Regions from separate parts of the Homo sapiens genome. Here all the other regions are linked to region 1. The links come from fine-mapping of genetic effects on gene expression. A gene starts in region 1. Each other region holds a variant in brackets. All regions are shown on one strand. Distances are from middle to middle. Region 1 holds the start of RIMKLB (ribosomal modification protein rimK like family member B). Region 2 overlaps RIMKLB (ribosomal modification protein rimK like family member B). Region 3 overlaps RIMKLB (ribosomal modification protein rimK like family member B). Region 4 overlaps A2ML1-AS1 (A2ML1 antisense RNA 1).

Region 1 (5,151 bases):
AAGGTTTCTCTATGCTGGTCAGGCTGGTCCAAAACTCCCGACCTCAGGTGATTCGCCTGCCTCAGCCTCCCAAAGTGCTGGGATTACAGGCGTGAGCCACCGCGCCCTGCCCTGAATAACAACTTTTAAGGGCAAGTGGCAAGTGAGTTAATAGTCATACTTCCTATCCTCAGTTTCACCAGTACAACCCACTTTTTCTGGGGATGCAGTTACCACGAATTGGATTCCTTAAGAGTGGGACTGAAGGAATAGGTTAATTAAATATTATTATTGATCCTCTGTACATTTTTTTCCCTGTGTCAATTTCACTGTGTTTATTTTGTCAGATTTTCAGTGTTAGTATCTCTGTGCTCAAGCTTCCCTTGATCACAAAATGCTTCTCTTGGTCTTGGAGTTGAATATACTTTATGTCCCAGGGGGCTGAATATCAGAGTGGAAGTAAATAGCAACAATTTAGTTCTGTAGACCTTATCCCCTTTGTTCTCAAGATAGTGTATCTATCTTATAGGGCGTTTGTTCCTCTAAATTTTGTAAACCAACTAGACGCCTATCCTAGGTTACTCTCACTGACCTAACATTATAATAGCACTAAACACTTTGAACAGCACTTGATCTGTGTCAGCTGTTAAATATTATATACTTATTAACTCATTTACTCCTTATGACAACTCCATGAAGTAGGTGACTATTTTTATCCTCACTTTTACAGCTCAGCAGATAAAGATACAGAGAGGTTAAGTTACTGCAGAGGTTCACATAGGGAGTGGAACCATAAATCCAATCCGGGCAGTCTGGATCCAGAAGTTACCACCCTGGGTTATGCTACATCTTTTAAAGGACTCTCGAGACGCTGAAGGAAATTAGTCAAAAAATTTTTTAAAAGCAGAAAATGAAATTATATTGTCAATTGACTGGGAGAGGAGCAGTGAAAAGTTGTTGGCTGAGGTCACTGAGACAGGGCTGAGACCAGCAAGAAGGCAAACTGGTGAGCACATTACCGTACCTCACACCTGGTGTCTCTGGTGACTGAAGTTATTTGGAAGTGAATCTTCCATGTAAACCTGGGAGGTCGTCTGTAGCCCTTTTTTTTTCTCCTTAAGAAAATGTAATAGCGTAGTTGAACATTCATATTCTTAGCCTCCTTTGGGCTATACTTTTATTTTTTATACATAGTTTTAGAATTTACAAAATGCTCTTAAAATATCTCATTTCATTCTCACAACGACTCCGGACTGTACTCTTTTATCTTTTCACAACAAAGGCTCAGAGGAAGCGTAGCAACTAACTTGTCCAAGGTTTACGCCGGTTTCTAGGGGGCAGAGCTGGCGCTATCCACCCCGCCTGTATCTCCAAACCCGCTTCAGCCAGGAAATTTATCATGTGGTTTTAAATTTGCCTCTCAATATACAGAGGTACTGTCTTTACTCCAGTCCCGGATAAAGACCTTCTAGGTATGAATGATCTTTGTCTCCATATCTTTGCCTACCGGAGGGAGGAACCACCGTAAGCGGAGACTCCGGGCGGCGGCCGGCGGAAGGGCTGGGCGGGAGGCGTCGGGATGCCGGCAGGACCCTGCGCCCGAGGGGGTAGGGGGCTCGTGTCGGGGTTCCAGGCGCAGATTGATGGGGCCTAAGCAGGGAATGTGAGGGCGGGGAGGGCGTACAACGGAAGGGACTAATCTCGCGGTTTCGAGTTGGGAGCAAACCTCGCCCCCCACCCCCCCCATCCGTTTCCCTTTCTCAGTGAAGACGGTTTGGGGGCGGGTGGGGAGGCGCGTCCTCGGAGCGCCCTCGCGCTCCCTTTTCGCTCCCCGCGCGCGATCCATCGCCTCTCTTCCCCCGAGGCCAGCGATGGCTCGGGTGCGGGCGAGGAGCTGGGAGGGCGGCTCTCGACGCAGGTGTCAGATCCGCTCGGCAGTGCTCGGCGCGCTGGCCCGGCCCCCAGCTCCTCCGGCCGCCGCCCCCCGCCCGCCGCGCCGCGGCGCCAGGAGGGCGGGGCCGGGGCGCGCGCCGCTCCTCAGCAAGCGGGCGGGCGGCGTTCGGTCTGAGGGAGCGGGGCGGTCTCCGCCGGCGTCGCGCGCGCTGTGTGTGAGCGGGGTCGCGCGCGCGCGCGGCAGGCGAGTGAGGGAACGAGGAGCGGCCGGGTGTGAGTGTGTGGGAGTGAGAGTGTGTGGGAGTGGGGTGAGGGAGAAGCTGACGGGACGCGAGGCTGTGAGAAACTGGGCGAGTGTGCGAGGACGCCCGGCCAGCCTGCGGGAGCCGCAGTCGGCGGAGGAGAAAGGAGGCGGCTCCCGGTATCCCGACCCCCTCCCCCTCCTCTCCTTCCCCCACTTCCAGCCGCCCGGCGGCCCGCGCTTCCTCGAAGGCCCCAGCCCGGCTCAGTCGGCCGAGAGCGAGGGAGGAGCCCCCCGACCCAGGTGAGCGGTACGACCGCTGTTGCCCTCGGGTGTAGAGCAGTGAGGCGAAGGCGCGCCCTCCCGAGTGGGCGAGTTCAGCGGAATGGATCCCCCGATTAGCGGGGGCTGGGCCGGGGAGGGGACCGGCCCGAGCGCGCCCGGGGTCCGGGGCTAGTTGAGGCCGGTGGTCGCCGCTCCGCGGAGTCGGTGGGGAGCGAGGCGGGGCCCGGCCTTCGCGCGTGTGCCGGGAGGCGCCGGCCCGTGGCGTGTGCGTGCGACCGGGCGAGCCGTGTCGAGGGGGCGGCGACTTCGGGCGTGTAAGGAGTATGGTTTCCCCGCCGGCGAGGGGGTGTGGTAACCCCGGGAACGCCGGCTGGAGTCGGACCCGCGGGCTGCTGACCTGTCCTCGGGATTGCGGCGACACTCCCCCTCCCCCCCCTTCCCACAAATTCTATGGAGCGACCGCGGGAGGAGGATCACGTGGTGCGGTCCCGCAGCTACTGTATTCGATTCCACGTTTTCCTCCTTACGTGTAAATTTTAGAGAGTGTGACAGTCATTCCATCTTTTCCTTTGACAGTCTCTGAATGAGAAGGGGATGACCAAATAATTGCTTGTCCAGTTTTGATTCTTTAAAAATTTGAGCATGATGTAAATATTACACTACTTGCCCCTCACCCCCCCCCAAAAAAAACCCAAACCAGAGTGGTAATAATTTCAATCTCCCCTTATTAATATGTCCTTATCTCTGATCACACATTTGTTATTTCACTGTTTTATCCCATTTGTATTGGCGAATAGCGATGGGGTGGTAATTCTGTTCTGTGAGGGGTTATTGCACTAACCATGCTCAATGCAACTGCTATGTAAATTCTTTCAGTATGCTGTCATTTTCCCATTAGTTATATATATTGTTACCACATCTTTGTGGAGTTAGGTTCAACTCTAAATAGGTATAGAAAGTATATGGGCAGCCTACTATGCAGATTTTTTTTTGTGGGCTTGGTATGTTCATTATATTTATGGGTGTTCTTAATTATTAACTATAACCATTTAAATTGAAATGTTTTTAAATCTCATTTTTGTTACTTTCACAATATTGGGTACCTTAAAGGTCATTTCTTCTATTTTAAAAAATGATTTCTTAAAAGCAATTATGAGAATACTTTTAAGATATTCATTTGGAATAAAACACTCTCTGAAATTCCGGTCTCAGAGATTTAACATTTATTTCCTAAATTTTAGTATGCAACCCTCTAATTTTAAAAATAATCATAGTTAAATTTCTTTTCCAATGGTTACTGTTTTATTTGGTTAGTGTGTCAAAGGGGAGGAGGCCTATTTTGTCTTGAGGTAATCCTATTTTATTCTTTTCTATCTTGGTTAGTGCTGTTAATTTCCTTCTTTCATGTCATTGATTTAGTTGTTAGTTTGGCAACATGGCTGTTGATGTTTTTTATCTTTCTCTGTCTCCCTTTTTTCTCTCTTGTCTTCTCTTACCCCTACCAGGTGCTGGAGTCTGCTTGTCAGGGAGGGGGGCAGTCTGTGATTCTGAGAACAGAGCCAAGAAGGGGAACAGCAAATTCAGTCACAGACAATCCTCCACTCGGTCAAGAGCCACTTTTCTCTTCCTGCCTTGCCCCCCCGCAGGGGGTAAGGAACTGAGCGTTTAATCTTTAGCCGGTTGGCTACCAGCTAAAATTCTACTTATCTTAGTTTCTAGTGGATAGCTTTCTTATTTTGCCCATGTTTTCTTAGAATCCCTGTTTAATATACTTTTGTCAGTAGTAGTATCTAGGAGTAGCAGGGAGAGTGACAATAAATTAGCCCCTTCTTTTTTCCCTTGTCATTCAGGCCCCTTTTCCTCTCCAGAGGGAAATTACCAGTAAACTCTTCTAAATCTTCCACCCCTTCTCAGTCATACTGTGAAGAAACACACTAAAGTGGACATTATTTGACCAGTGAACACGAACCCAGCTTCAGGCATTGGTTTGTTGTGGCACATGGAGAAACATCTCTTTTAAAATATCTCCCAATTACCCTTTTCACAATTTGTATCCACCTAGGATTTGCTGCTGGGGTAAGTCACTAGATTTATTTCTCAAAGCTCCCCTCTCTATGAGCTGAAAGACTGACCAACCATGAACACTAGTAGGGGATGGGGAAAGGGGACAGAGCAGAGCCAGTTGTTCCACACTTTGGGAAGCAGGAGTAGCTTTTATCATCTTCCTCTGGGGAGCAGGCATAGAGACATAAACTGAGTGAAAATGGGTGGAGGAAGAACTTCTATACCCACGAACAACATGTGAAGAGAGAGAACCAAACATAAAGTAAGGAGGGTGAGTTTTATTGTATGTTGCTTGCTGACAACTGTTTTGGGGGCGCTTCAGTGATATACATTCATAGAAAGACTTTGTTTTATGGCAGATTAGTTTACAAAGAGTATTCTGCAAGTGGGATTAAGTCACAAGCAAATGAGAAAAGAGCCTCTAGAAATTGTAATTATGTGGCCTGGCGCAGTGGCTCACACCTGTAATCCCAGCACTTTGGGAGGATGAGGCAAGCTGATCACTTGAGGTCAGGAGTTTGAAACCAGCCTGGCCAACATGGCGAAACCCTGTCTCTGTGAAAAATATAAAAAGTAGCTGGGCATGGTGACGCACACCTGTAGTCACAGCTACTCAGGAGGCTGAGGCACAAGAATCGCTTGAACCTGGGAGGTGGAGGTTGCGGTGAGCCGAAATTTTATCACTGCAC
Region 2 (5,151 bases), 23 kb after region 1:
GTGTGTGTGTGTGTGTGTATAATCATTTTTAGAGTAATTTTAGGTTTACAGCAAAATTAGGCAGAAAGTACAGGGATCTCCTATGTATCCTCTGCCCACATACATGGATATCTTTGCCCCATTTTGAACATCCCTTACCAGAAGGACATGTTTGTTGAACTTGATGAACTGACATGACACATCATCATGCAAAGTCCATAGTTTACATTACTGCTTACTCTTGGGTGTTCTATAGTCTGTGGCTTTGGGCAAATGCATAATTACATGTATCCACCACTGTGGTATCATACAGAATAGTTTCCCTGCACTAAAAATCCTGTGCTCTGGCTGTTCATTCCTTTCTCTTTCTCCCTCCTGTTCATCCTCCTCCTTCCCTCCCTCTCACCCATCTCTTGACAACCACTGACCCTCTGACTGTCTCCACAGTTTTGCCTTTTCTAGAATGTTATAGTTGGCACTGTGCAGTATGTAGTGTTTTCGTATTAGGATCTTTCACATAGTAATATGAATTTAAGGTTTTTCCACGTCTTTTCCTGGCTTGAGAGCTCATTTCTTCTATTGTATAATTATATTTCATTGCCTTCATATACTGTAGTTTATTTATTCAACTGCTAAAAGACACCTTGCTTCTAATTCTAAGCCCTGGGATTATAAATTAAGCTGGGTTTTTTTGTTTTGTTTTGTTTTGTTTTTGAGATGGAGTTTCGCTCTTGTCGCCCAGGCTAGACTGCAATGGTGCGATCTCGGCTCACTGCAACCTCCACCTCCCAGATTCAAGCGATTCTCCTGCCTCAGCCTCCCAAGTAGCTGAGATTACAGGCGCCCACCATTACGCCCAGCTGATTTTTGTATTTTTAGTAGAGACGGGGTTTCACCATGTTGGCCAGGCTGGACTCGAACTCCTGACCTCCGGTGATCCGCCCGCCTCGGCCTACCAAGGTGCTAGGATTACAGGCATGAGTCACAGTGCCCAGCCTAAGCTGGGTTTTTTGTCTTCCAATTTAATAATTATTGAGGATCTACTTAGTAATGTGGGAGATTCAAAATAACTATTACAAGTGCTTAGATGCTTAACAGCAAAAAGATATATAGAAAACCAAGTAAAAATACAAAATTGCATTCATGAAATGCCTGTTTCATAAAGGACAATGTACAAGGTTGTGGATACAAGGATGGAAAAGACAAAATTGTCAACTCCTGAGGTTCTTGTTCTGATAAAGGAGACTGACAAGGAGTCTGGCCTCAAGGTAGGGCCTGGTTGTGAGTAGAGATAGATCATGAGCTGTTTTCATATTTGGGTTACTTGGGAGTGAGTGTAGGTGTGCACCAAGGATGGTAAAGAATGAAGCCTTCATTCAAAGCAAGATTGGTACTGAGACTTGGTGATAAGTTTGGTATAGCTAGATGATGGAACTTTCAGTGCCAGGATAGAGTCCGGATTTGAGCCAGTAATGAAGACATTTTTCAGTTGTGAGTAGAATATAGAACATTAAGACATTGAGGACATATATTTTGACACCACAAAATCCATATTAAAACACATTCATTAGGAGAATATGAGAAGTCATATCATCAGTAACATTCTTTTTCTTAGTTTCTTTTGATGGGTAAAAGACCTAATTAAAAGGTACAAAGTTGGATTCATACTTTTGAGTTCAATCTTTTGACGCTTAGTGGTCAACTAATATTTGAGAAACTTTTATGTGCCAGATACTTTCCAGTGTATAATAGTAAATAAAGGGTCTCTGTTCACATGGAGCTCAGGAGTCTAGTAGAATTAAAGACTATAAACTATACTAAGCAGCTGAGGATGCATTTTAATTCCCTTTGAGGGTAAAGTATCATTATCCCTCGTGTGTGTGTGTGCGACACGGAGTTTGGCTCTTGTCGCCCAGGCCGGAGTGCAGTGGCGCGATCTCGCTCACTGCAACCTCTGTCTCGGGTTCAAGCGATTCTCCTGCCTCAGCCTCCCGAGTAGCTGGGATTATAGGTGCCTGCCACCACGCTCAGCTAATTTTTGCATTTTTGGTAGAGATGGGGTTTCACCTTGTTGGCCAGGCTGGTCTGGAACTCCTGACCTTGAATGATCCGCCCCCCTCGGCTTCCCAAAGTGCTGGGATTACAGGCATGAGCCACCGCGCCTGGCCTACCCGTTTTAAATAAGAGATTAAGAAGCTTGCCTATGGCCTTGTAGCTAGACACAAAGTGAGACCCCTTTGAATATTATGTTATGCTGCCTCAGAGTCTACTGGGACAGATTTAATACCCTGGAACCAGGTAATTTTTAAAAGACTATTTAAAAACAAAAATGTTAACCAGTGACTCTTCCAGAAGTGCTAGGATATGGTTTAAAAAGGAGACTGTTAATAGGTAATGTCTGCCTTTTGAGAGTTTAATTGTAATGTGTTTTGATGAAGATCTCTTTATAGGCACACCTTGGAGATACTGCAGATTTGGTTTCAGACCACCACAGTCAAGCAAATATCACAATAAAGCGAGTAACACAAACTTTTGGTTGATGGCTACTGACTAGTCAGGGTGGTGGTTGCTGAAGGTGGCTGTGGCATTTTCTTGAAATACGAAAACAATGAAATTTGCCCCATTGACATTAAAGATTTCTCTGTAGCATGTGATGCTATTTTCCAACATTTTACCCACC[G/A]AATTTCTTTCAAAATTGGAGTCAGTCCTCTTAAACCCTGCTGCTGCTTTGTCAACTCAATTTATGTAATATTCTAAATCTTTGTCGTCATTTCAACAATGTTCATAGCCTCTTCACAGGAATAGATTCCATCTCCATTGGAATGACCATTTGGTCATCTGTAAGAAGCAACTCATCTGTTCAGCAATCTTCATGAGACTGCAGCAGTTTAATCCCGTCTCAGGCTACACTCTCAATTATAGCTCTCTTGCCATCTCCACCACATTTGCTGTTATTTCCTTCACTGAAGTCTTGAAGCCCTCATAGTCATCCATGAGGGTGAGAATCAGTTTCTTCCACATTCCTATCAATGGTGATATCTTGACCTTCTCTCATGAATTATGAGTGTTTTTTGTTTTTTGTTTTTTTTTGAGATGGAGTCTGACTCTGGCACCCAGGCTGGAGTGCAGTGGCACGATCTTGGCTCACTGCAACCTCAGCCTCCTGGGTTCAAGCGATTCTCCTGCCTCACTCTCCCAAGTAGCTGGGACTACAGGTGTGTGCCACTATGCCTGGCTAATTTTTGTATTTTTAGTAGAGATGGGGTTTTGCCATGTTGGCCAGGTTGGTCTCAAACTCCTGACCTCAGGTGATCCACCCACCTCGGCCTCCCAAAGTGCTGGGATTACAGGTGTGAGCCACCGCGCCTGGCCTATGAGTGTTCTTAATGGCATCTAGAATGATGAATGCCTTTCAGAACTTTTTCAGTTTACTTGCCGAGATCTTTTAGAGGAATCACTGTGGCAGCTATAGCCTTATGAAATGTATGTCTTAAATTATAAGATTTGAAAGTAGAAATTACTCCTGTTTGTCAGCTGTCTCACAGAGCTAAAAAAAAAAAAAATTACTTCTTGATCCATGGGCTTGCAGAGTCCATGTTGTGTTAGCAGCTATGAAAATAATGTTAATCTTTTTATACATCTTCATCAGAGCTCTTGGGTGACCAGGTGCATCATCAGTGAGTAGTAATATTTTGAAAGGAATATTTTTTTTCTGAGTAGTAGGTCTCAACAGTGGGCTAAAGATATTTAGTAAACCATACTGCAAGCAGATGTGCTGTCATTCAGGTTTTGCTGTTCCACTTAGCACAGGCAGAGTCCATTTAGCATAACTTTTAAGAACCCTAGGATTTTTGGAATGCTAAATGAGCATTGGTTTCAACTTACAGTCACCAGCTGCCTTCGCTCCTAACAAAAGAATTAGCCTCTCCCTTGAAACTTTAAAGCCAGTTATGGACTTCTCTTTAGCTGCTATCAAAGTCCTAGAGGGCATCTTCTTCCAGCAAAAGGCTGTTTTGTCTACATTGAAAATCCATTGTATAGTGCGGCCACCTTCATCAATTATCTTAGCTAGATCTTCTGGATAACTTGCTGAAGCTTTCACATAAGCAGCTGCCGCTTTACCTTGCACTTTGCACTGTGCTATACAGATGGCTTCTGTTCCTAAATCCCATGAACCAAACTCTGTTAGATTCAAACTTTCCTTCACCTCCGTCAGCCTTCAAAGAATTGGAGAGTTAGGGTCTTACTCTAGATAAGGCTTTGCCTTAAGGGAATGTTGTGGCTGGTTGGATGTTTTATCCAGACCACTAAAACTTTCTCCATATCACCAATAAGGCTGCTTTGCTTTCTTATCATTCATGTGTTCACTGGAGTAGCACTTTTAATTTCCTTCAAGCACTTTTCCTTTGCATATACAACTTGTCTAACTTTGGCACAAGAGGTCTAGTTTCTGGCCTGTCTCACCTTTTAAAATACCTTCTTCACTAAGCTTAATCTTTCAATTTAAAGTAAGAGATTGTGTGACTCTTTTTTGCCCTTGAACACTTAGAGCCACTGTAGGGTTATTAACTGGCCTAATTTCAATATTGTTGTCACAGGGAATAAGGAGGCCCAAGGAGAGGGAGAGAGATGGGGAAGCCAGTTGGTGGAGCAGTGAGAATGTACACATTTATTCAGTTTGCCCTCTATGTGGTTGCAGTTAGTGTCGCCCATTTATAATAGTAACATCAAAGATCACTATAACAGATATGATCAAAATGGAAGTTTGAAATACTGTGAAAATTATCAAAATGTGACACAAAGACACAAAGTGAGCACTTGCTGTTGCAAAAATGACACTGATTGACTTGCTTGACACAGGGTCGCCACAAATCTTCATTTGTAAAAAACACAATAACTGCAAAAGGCAATAAGTTAAAGCACAATAAAATGAGGCATGCTTGTATATTTAATCTATTTGGAGTTTGCTGGGCTTCATGAATCTAGATGTTTATTTCTCTCTAGATTAGGGAACTTAAAAAAAAATAAACTGTTGTCCTTTTGTCTTTCTCTACTCCTTCCGGAATATCCATAATGCATATTATGGTTCACTTGACACTGGCCTGTAATTCTCATAGGCTTTCTTCAGTTCCCTTTTTTTTTTTTTTTTTTTTTTTTGGAGACAGAGTCTTT
Region 3 (5,151 bases), 73 kb after region 1:
GAAATAAAGCTGTGAAGTAAGTTTATTTTGCGTGTTTTCTATAAGCAGTATATAGCTAAGTTTTGTTTTTTATTCAAATCGGACTAGTTTCCATCTTTTAATGGAAGATTTGGTCCATTTTTTGTGTAATTACTAATATACTTAAAATTTCTTCCATCTTATTTTGTGTTTATTATTTAACTCAAATTGTTCCTTTTTCTTTTTCTTTTCTAATTTTTGCTGGTTAGTAAGGTACCATTTTATTTTCACTCCTGCCACCAAACCCAGTTAATTTGGGAGATCAACCAGGGTTTTGCATTCCATTAATGGTTACCTTCTATTTTCTTATGCTCATAATCAGACAGATTCTCTACAGTTACTTGAGAAGATAATTTTCCTTGATACTTTATTTACTACTTCACTGTATCATCATAATAATAATGAAGTCTTTGGAATACCTTTACTTTCCCCTGGTGTTCCTTGTTCCCTCTCCCCTCCAATGGGAATATTAGAACAATTTTATTTCCTTCCTACTCTTTCCACTTGATTGACTCATTTATTGAGTAAATAGTTTCAAGTACCTCCAAAGCGTCAAGTACTGTTGTAGCAATAATTTTTTTTTTTTTTTTGGGAGATGGAATTTTGCTCTTGTTGCCCAGGCTTGGAGTGCAATGGCATGATCTCAGCTCACTGCAACCCCCGCTTCCCGGGTTAAAGTGATTCTCCTATCTTGGCCTCCCACATGCAGGCACCTGCCACCACACCCAGCTAATTTTTGTATTTTTAGTAGAGACGGGGTTTCACCATGTTTGCCAGCCTGGTCTCTAACTCCTGACCTCAGGTGATCTGTTCGCCTCGACCTCCCATAGTGCTGGGATTACAGGCATGAGCCACCGCGCCTGGCCTATTGTAGCAGTATTTTGTATATACTAGTGAACAAAACAGACAGAAATCCCTAGTCTCATTGACCTTATATTCCAGTTTTGCTGAAATCATCTAATAGTTTTAGTTCATCTGTTTGGAATTTGTTTTACTGTATGTCTCTTCTGTTTCATGAACCCTTATATAGCACTTTATCCATTCCCAGGCAGTCTGTCTTTATCCACTTAAAATGAATTATACCTATATTGCAAAGTACTCACCATGGTTTACTCCTCATATTCATCTTCCCATATCTTGAGATCTCTGTTAGCCATTTACTAGTATGTTAGTATCATTTCTTGATTATTTTTCCTGGTGGGCTATCAGAGTCATAGATACCCTCACATATTCTGTTAATACAAAAAATACACTCAAAGTGCTTTTTCTATTCTCTCATTCAACAACAATTCACATGGAACACTTATTTGACCACGTGTGGGGGATTTCTCTATTTGGAGATACCATCAGATCTGACAGGTTGAGGGCTCAGTCACCAGGAGTCACCAAGAATATCCCCAACTTCCCACCTCACCCCCTTCAGACACCAGTTGCAAGTCCAGGCCTACAGAACTTCTGACCAACTGGCTTCAAGTTGGGGTTCCCGTGACTTTCTGCTTAGGTTTGATTAATTTGCTACAGCAACTCACAGAACTCAAAGAACACTTACATTGTGTTATCTGTATATTATAAAGGATATTTCAAAGGATACAGGTGAAGAGATGCATAGGGCAAGGTATGGGAGAAAGGATATGGAGCTTCCATGCCCTCCCACGGCTTGCCACCCTTCAGGAGCCTCTACGTGTCCAGCTATCCAGAAGTTTTCTGAACCTTGCCCTTTTTGATATCCAATTGGATAGACATAATTGATAACCATGTAAAAATGTAATTGGACCAAAAGGGTATGATCTAACACTAGTAGACTGAGTAGGGAAACCCAGCAAGGCCTGTATGTTCAGATTCTTCTTGGCCTCTCTGTGCCACATTCCTTCCTCCAGGGTATGGGGCAGGACCTCATCTGGAATGAGGTCTTATGACCCACAATCAGAAAGGCTGTGAAAGATTAGAGTCCTGCTGTGGGGTAGGTGAAAGGAGGACAGGGGAAGGTTAGATTCTATTTTCTAAGGAAAGTGCCCCAACATTATAACAAAAGACTATAACAAGGGCTGTTGGAGTGATATGCCAGGAACTGTGGACAAAAACCAATATATAATTTAGATCAGAATATCACACATCTTTCTCCTTGGAAGAAGAATAATACTTTGTCTGAGATATAATTCTTATATTGTAAGAGTCTAGCTTCAATTCTACTGCCTTGAAGATTTTATTGTTGCAGTTTAATGTCCAAATCTACTCTCATTTTTTTCCTTTGTGGGTAATTTATTCTTTGTAAATTTTTTTAGTGG[C/T]GCTCACATTTTATTGGGATTTTGTAGATATATTTGTGTCTTATCAGTTCAACCTGGATTTTAGCTGTTTTAGTCAGCAGACTAAATTTCTTCCTTATACAGTTTTCTGGAAAATGTCTTCATTAATTATTGCCTCTCCATCTGTTTCTGTCCTTCTGAGGAATATTTTTCTGATTCAGTTCTCCAGTTTTGTTTTTGTTTTGTTTTGTTTTTGTTTTTGTTTTTGAGATGGAGTCTCGTTCTGTCGCCCAGGCTGGAGTGCAGTGGCACAATCTTGGCTCACAGCAACTTCCACCTCCTGGGTTCAAGCGATTCTTGTGCCTCAGCTTCCTGAGTAGCCGGAACTATAGGCGCCTGCCACCACACCGGGCTAATTTTTGTATTTTTAGTAGAAACGAGGTTTCACCATGTTGGCCAGGCTGGTCTTGAACTCCTGACCTCAAGTGATCCACCTCAGCCTCCCAAAGTGTTGGGATTACAGGCATGAGCCATCACAGCTGGCCCAAATTTTTTATCTTTATGATTTCACCTCACATTTTTAGCTATGCTTTGCATATTACTTGATTTTCTAAGTCAACTCTCAAAGCGACTGTACTCTCTTTGAGTTTCTCTATTGGATTTTTTAGTTGAGTAATCATGTTTTTGTTTTAACTTCAGAAAATCTTTTTGTGCTGAACTTGAATCTCCTTAAAGAGCTCTTATTTCTTTCATCAAAGTCATAGATGGATTATTATTGTTTTGTTTTTACATCAGGGCTCACTCAGCTTGGGTTATTTGTAGTATTCTACATGGCCTCAGTCTTAGAAGTGCTGTGAAGCAGAATCATTTAATTCACGGGCCAGTCTTCTACGGAGGTACCTAAAAGAAGCCTTTTGTTTCCTTGACTTCTTTATTCCTACAGCCTCAGTGGTAGGGAGGATCCACCTCACCTGTCCAGCTACTTCTGGCCTTTTTGGGGTCAAACACTACGGGTAAACTCACATGTCATCCTCACTCCTATGGATACACAGAGCTCTTGGAACCAAGCTCTTCTTAAAGTTCTTTACTTTCCTGTCCTTAGTTCAGAGCTTCGTGAAGCTGATCTCCAAGTGAGAAAATCAAGTTCTACTTCCTTTCTCTTCCTTCCTTTTGGCAAGGCCAAAGACTTCACTTATATCCAGCCAGCTACCTTATAACCCAGAAGCCTTTTGGTTTAGGAATGACAGCTAGATTGAAGTGGGGGCTATAGAGGAAGAAAACTGTGTTCACGTCACCACCTTCCCAGATTTCACCCCATCCTCCGTTCTGTTATGCATTTTTATTATTTTTATAAATCAAAAACCAATAATACTTTTGCCATCTATCAAGTGGTCTAATTGTATTTATGCTGAACTTCCTTATACTTGGTTTATATTATTGCAAGTAAGATAGACTTGGAAAAAATATTGACAACTTACGAAATCATCAATTCCTGGGAGACTGGATAGGGAGAGGATTCCTGATTAAGGAAATCTAGACTTAGAAGTCCTAATTTTACACTAGAATAACGCCTTTGTTTTCACTATTAATTTAGAAGAAAGGCTTAGCCTTGGAGGCCAACTTTAATTTTATTTCAAAAGTTTATGATTTTGTTAATTTCCTGTCTTGTTTCTTTTGCCAGGTGGTGTGGGGATGATGTGCTCATTGAGTGAACAAGGGAAGCAGCTAGCTATCCAGGTGTCTAATATCCTGGGGATGGATGTGTGTGGCATTGATCTGCTGATGAAAGATGACGGCTCCTTCTGCGTCTGTGAGGCCAATGCAAATGTAGGTTTCATCGCCTTTGATAAGGCTTGTAATCTAGATGTAGCTGGTATCATAGCAGACTATGCCGCCTCCCTTCTACCCTCTGGCCGGCTCACCCGGCGTATGTCCCTGCTCTCCGTGGTGTCCACTGCCAGTGAGACTAGTGAGCCGGAGCTGGGTCCCCCAGCCAGCACTGCTGTTGACAACATGAGTGCAAGTTCCAGCTCTGTTGACAGCGACCCTGAAAGCACGGAGCGAGAGCTGCTCACCAAGCTCCCAGGGGGCCTGTTCAACATGAACCAGCTGCTAGCCAATGAAATCAAACTACTGGTGGACTGACTCCACTGGTAATTAACCAACAAAACCCTTGTAAAACTTTCTTTCTTCTTTTCTATTTTTAAAACCAACTTGCAATGCTGTTCATGGAGGATGCTCAGGAAGATGAGAGAAAATTAGTAGGATTAGTTGGAGAGAGTGGGAGATAGATGAGACCTCTGCTAGTAAGATGTTACTTTCATTTACAAATCCTACAAATAGAGAGGCAGAATAGGTGGGGTATAGAAAAATGTCAGGCTCTCATAGTTACCCTTTTAAATTGCTAAAAAATGTGTATGCTCATAGGCCATGAGGAACAAATACTTTTTTTTTTTCATGGTCCCTTGCTTTTGTTTTTGTACAAAAAAAAATGGTTTTGCTACAAATATCCAAGTAGCATAACTTCACATTGTGTTGGAAGATTTGTCATCAGTGAGGAAAACATCTGCATAAATTACAGGAATTTTTGTATTATACAGCTCTGAAAATTCTGCCATTTCCTTATTAACTAGCAGCTTTAGTTTGTAGTTTATGAAATCTTGAGGGGCTCTTTTACTGGGATTTCTTATTTTTTTGTTTTTTCCCGCTTAATTTGGTGGGAGGTCAAATTGAATATAACCCAATAAAGGCTTCTTAATGACAAAATTGGCATGTTTGCATGATGAAATGGAAATGAACAGTATTGCAATGTCCGGTATACAAAATAACATTAATTCAATGTAGATAAAATTACACTAGTTTAAAATATGTGCATTCACTTGTATTTGTT
Region 4 (5,151 bases), 110 kb after region 1:
AACTGATAACATTGTCTTATGAAATTCCTTCTCCTGGCTCACCCTGGCTCAAAAGCTCCCCTACTGAGCACCTTGTGACCCCCATTATGCCCGCCAGAGAACAACTCCCCTTTGACAGTAATTTTCCTTTACCTACCCAAATCCTATAAAACGGCCCCACCCCTATCTCCCTTCACTGACTCTCTTTTCGGACTCAGCCCACCTGCACCCAGGTGATTAAAAGCTTTATTGCTCACACAAAGCCTGTTTGGTGGTCTCTTCACATGGACGTGCATGAAATTTGGTGCCGTGACTCAGATCCGGGGACTTCCCTTGGGAGATCAATCCCCTGTCCTCCTGCTCTTTGCTCTGTGAAAAAGATCCACCTACGACCTCAGGTCCTCAGACCAAGCAGCCCAAGGAACATCTCACCAATTTTAAATCGGGTAAGCGGCCTCTTCTTACTCTCTTCTCCAACCTCTCTCACTGTCCCTCAACCACTTTCTCCTTTCCACTCTTCAATCTCTCCCTTCTCTTAATTTCAATTCCTTTCATTTTCTGGTAAAGACAAAGGAGACACGTTTTATCCATGGACACAAAACTCCGGCGCCGGTCACGGACTAGGGAAGGCAGCCTTCCCTTGGTGTTTAGTCATTGCAGGGACACCTCTCTGATTATTTACACACGTTTCAGAGGTGTCAATGCAGGAGGGACGCCTGCATTGGTCCTTCACCCTTAGCGGCAAGTCCCGCTTTTCTGGGGAAGGGGCAAGTACCCCAACCATTTCTCTCCGTGTCTCTACCCCTTCTCCACCTTTCTGGGGGGCAAGAAACCCCCAACCCCTTCTCCTTCACTCTTAGTGGCAAGTCCCGCTTTTGTAGAGGAGGGGCAAGTACCCCAACCTTGTATCTCTGCGCCCCAATCCCTTATTTCCGTGGCCCAACCTCTTATATCTCTGCGCCCCAATCCCTTATTTCCGTGCCCCGACCTCTTATCTCTGTGCCCCAACCCCTTATTTCCATGCCCCGACCTCTTATCTCTGTGCCCCACCCCTTATTTCCATGCCCCAACCTCTTATCTCTGTGCCCCAACCCCTTATATCTGTGCCCCAACCCCTTTCCCACTTTTCTGGAAGGTAAGAACCCCCGAACCCCTTCCCTCCATGTCTCTACTCTCCCTTTTCTCTAGGCTTGCTTCCTTCACTATGGGCAACCTTCCACCCTCCTTTCCTCCTTCTTCTGCCTTGGCCTGTGTTCTCAAAGACTTAAAACCTCTTCAACTCACACCTGACCTAAAACCTAAATGCCTTATTTTCTTCTGCAATGCTGCTTGACCCCAATACAAACTCAATAGTAGTTCCAAACAGCCGGAAAACGGCACTTTCAATTTTTCCATCCTGCAAGATCTAAATAATTCTTGTCATAAAATGGGCAAACGGTCTGAGGTGCCTGACAACCAGGCATTGTTTTACACATCAGTCCCTCCCTAGTCTCTGTGCCCAGTGCAACTTGTCCCAAATCTTCCTTCTTTCCCTCCTGCCTGTCCCCTCAGTACCAATCCCAAGTGTCGCTGAGTCTTTCTAATCTTCCTTTTCTACAGACCCATCTGACCTCTCCCTTCCTCCCCAGGCTGCTCCTCGCCAGGCCGAGCTAGGTCCCAATTCTTGCTCAGCCTCTGCTCCTCCACCCTATAATCCTTTTATCACCTCCCCTCCTCACACCTGGTCCGGCTTACAGTTTCGTTCCATGACTAGCCCTCCCCCACCTGCCCAGAAATTTACTCTTAAAAAGGTGGCTGGAGCTAAAGGCATATAGTCAAGGTTAATGCGCCATTTTCTTTATCCCAAATCAGATAGTGTTTAGGCTCTTTTTCATCAAATATAAAAACTCAGCCCAGTTCATGGCTCGTTCAGCAGCAACCCTGAGACGCTTTACAGCCCTAGACCCTAAAAGGTCAAAAGGCCGTCTTATTCTCAATATACATTTTATTACCCAATCTGCTCCCGACATTAAATAAAACTCCAAAAATTAAATTCCAGCCCTCAAACCCCACAACAGGATTTAATTAACCTTGCCTTCAAGGTGTACAATAATAGAAAAAAGTTGCAATTCTTTGCCTCCACTGTGAGACAAACCCCAGCCACATCTCCAGCACACAAGAACTTCCAAATGCCTGAACCACAGTGTCCAGGCATTCCTCCAGAACCTCCTCCGGCAGGAGCTTGTACAAGTGCCAGAAATCTGACCACCAGGCCAAGGAATGCCTGCAGCCCAGGATTCCTCCTAAGCCGTGTCCCATCTGTGCAGGACCCCATTGGAAATCAGACTGTTCAACTCACCTGGCAGCCGCTCCCAGAGCCCCTGGAACTCTGGCCCAAGGCTGTCTGACTGACTCCTTCTCGGCTTAGCAGCTGAAGACTGACGCTGCCCGATTGCCTCGGAAGCTCCGTAGACCATCACGGATGCCGAGCTTCGGGTAACTCTCACAGTGGAAGTTAAGTCTGTCCCCTTAGTCAATACGGAGGCT[A/C]CCCACTCCACATTACCTTCTTTTCAAGGGCCTGTTTCCCTTGCCTCCATAACTGTTGTGGGTATTGACGGCCAGGCTTCTAAACCCCTGAAAACTCCCCCACTCTGGTGCCAACTAGGACAACACTCTTATGCACTCTTTTTTAGTTATCCCCACCTGCCCAGTTCCCTTATTAGGCCAAGATATTTTAACCAAATTATCTGCTTCCCTGACTATTCCTGGGCTACAGCCACATCTCATTGCTGCCCCTCTCCCCAACCCAAAGCCTCCTTCGCGTCTTCCTCTCATATCCCCCCACCTTAACCCACAAGTATGGGACATCTCTACTTCCCTGGCAACCGATCACATGGCCGTTACCATCTCATTAAAACCTAATCACCCTTACCCCGCTCAACGCCAATATCCCATCCCACAGCACGCTTTAAAAGGATTAAAGCCTGTTATCACTCGCCTGCTACAGCATGGGCTTCTAAAACCTATAAACTCTCCTTACAATTCCCCCATTTTACCTGTCCGAAAACTGGACAAGTCTTACAGATTAGTTCAGGATCTGCGCCTTATCAGCCAAATTGTTTTGCCTATCCACCCTGTGCTGCCCAACCCGTACACTCTTTTGTCCTCAATACCTTCCTCCACAACTCACTGTTCCGTGCTTGATCTTAAAGATGCTTTTTTCACTATTCCCCTGCACCTCTCGTCCCAGCCTCTCTTCGCTTTCACTTAGACTGACCCTGACACCCATTAGGCTCAGCAAATTACCTAGGCTGTACTGCTGCAAGGCTTAGTAGACAGCCCCCATTACTTCAGTCAAGCCCAAATTTCATCCTCATCTGTTACCTATCTCGGCATAATTCTCATAAAAACACACGTGCTCTCCCTGCTGATCATGTCCGATTAATCTCCCAAACTTCAATCCCTTACAAAACAACAACTCCTTTCCTTCCTAGGCATGGTTAGCGCAGTCAGAATTCTTACACAAGAGACAGGACCACACCCTGTAGCCTTTCTGTCCAAACAACTTGACCTTACTGTTTTAGCCTAGCCCTCATGTCTGCATGCAGCGGCTGCTGCTGCTTTAATACTTTTAGAGGCCCTCAAAATCACAAACTATGCTCAACTCACTCTCTACAGCTCTCATAATTTCCAAAATCTATTTTCTGACCCACACCTGACGCATATACTTTCTGCTCCCGGGCTCCTTCAGCTGTGCTTACTCTTTGTTAAGTCCCACAATTACCATTGTTCCTGGCCCGGACTTCAGTCCGGCCTCCCACATTATTCCTGATACCACACCTGACCCCCATGACTGCATCTCTCTGATCCACCTGACGTTCACCCCATTTCCCCACATTTCCTTCTTCCCTGTTTCTCACCCTGATCACACTTAGTTTATTGATGGCGGTTCCACCAGGCCTAATCGCCACACACCAGCAAAGGCAGGCTATGCTATAGTACAAGCCACTAGCCCGCCTCTTAGAACCTCTCATTTCCTTTCCATTGTGGAAATCTATCCTCAAAGAAATAACTTCTCAGTGTTCCATCTGCTATTCTACTACTCCTCAGGGATTATTCAGGCCCCCTCCCTTCCCTACACATCAAGCTCAAGGATTTGCCCCCACCCAGGACTGGCAAATTAGCTTTACTCAACATGCCCCGAGTAAGATAACTAAAATGCCTCTTAGTCTAGGTAGACACTTTCACTGGATAAGCAGAGTCCTTTCCTACAGGGTCTGAGAAGGCCACCACAGTCATTTCTTCCCTTCTGTCAGACATAATTCTTCAGTTTAGCCTTCCCACCTCAATACAGTCTGATAACAGACGAGCCTTTATTAGTCAAATCAGCCAAGCCTTTTTTCAGGCTCTTAGTATCCAGTGACAGACTAATGGTCTATTAAAAACACACCTCACGAAGCTCAGCCACCAACTCAAAAAGGACTGGACAATACTTTTACCACTTTCGCTTCTCAGAATTCAGGCCTGTCCTCAGAATGCTACAAGGTACAGCCCATTTAAGCTCCTGTATAGACGCTCCTTTTTATTAGGCCCCAGTCTCCTTCCAGACACCAGACCAACTTAGACTGTGCCCCCAAAAACCTGTCATCCCTACTATCTTCTGTCTAGTCATACTCTTATTCAGCGTTCTCAACTACTCATACATGCCCTGCTCTTGTTTACACTGCCAGTTTACACTGTTTCTCCAAGCCATCACAGCTGATATCTCCTGGTGCTATCCCCAAACCGCCACTCTTAACTCTTAAAGTAAATAAATAATCTTTGCTGGCAAGGCTATGCTGAACCTTCTTAGGCACTCTCTAATGAGATGTCCTAGGTCCTCCCAATTCTTAGTCCTTTAATACCTGTTTTTCTCCTTCTTTTATTCCATTTAGTTTTTCAATTCATACAAAACTGTATCCAGGCCATCACCAATAATTCTAAATGACAAATGTTTCTTCTAACAATCCCACAATATCACCCCTTACCACAAAATCTCCCTTCAGCTTAATCGCTCCCACTTTAGGTTCCCACGCCGCCCCAATCCCGCACGAAGCAGCCCTGAGAAACATCGCCCATTATCTCTCCATACCCTCATCCAAAATTTTCATCATCCCAACACTTTACCACTATTTCGTTTTATTTTTCTTATTA

What was found. PIP is the estimated chance that this variant, and not a neighbour inherited with it, causes the effect.
Region 2: its variant is the best candidate, but not a certain one, in a credible set for the expression of RIMKLB in whole blood (INTERVAL, PIP 0.90).
Region 3: its variant is the best candidate, but not a certain one, in a credible set for the expression of RIMKLB in whole blood (TOPMed, PIP 0.77).
Region 4: its variant is the best candidate, but not a certain one, in a credible set for the expression of RIMKLB in lung (TOPMed, PIP 0.67).

The regions. Positions count from the first base shown.
Region 1 is chr12:8,695,882-8,701,032 of GRCh38, forward strand. RIMKLB (ribosomal modification protein rimK like family member B) reads left to right here and starts at 2,110. Exons shown (of 6, transcript NM_001297776.2): 1 at 2,110-2,416. RefSeq lists silencers at 1,915-2,014, 2,545-2,714 and an enhancer at 1,939-2,905.
Region 2 is chr12:8,718,693-8,723,843 of GRCh38, forward strand. All of the region lies in intron 2 of RIMKLB (ribosomal modification protein rimK like family member B), which reads left to right. Among named protein-coding and RNA genes, the nearest start is that of RIMKLB, 23 kb to the left of the region's middle. The variant G/A (reference allele first, on the strand shown) is at 2,660.
Region 3 is chr12:8,769,379-8,774,529 of GRCh38, forward strand. It overlaps RIMKLB (ribosomal modification protein rimK like family member B), which reads left to right. Exons shown (of 6, transcript NM_001297776.2): 6 at 3,943-5,151. The coding sequence ends at 4,406. Among named protein-coding and RNA genes, the nearest start is that of LINC02972, 16 kb to the right of the region's middle. RefSeq lists enhancers at 2,729-3,230, 3,231-3,730. The variant C/T (reference allele first, on the strand shown) is at 2,304.
Region 4 is chr12:8,805,005-8,810,155 of GRCh38, forward strand. The region is part of intron 1 of A2ML1-AS1 (A2ML1 antisense RNA 1); the gene reads right to left. Among named protein-coding and RNA genes, the nearest start is that of A2ML1, 15 kb to the right of the region's middle. RefSeq lists enhancers at 1-688, 1,395-2,102, 5,054-5,151. The variant A/C (reference allele first, on the strand shown) is at 2,506.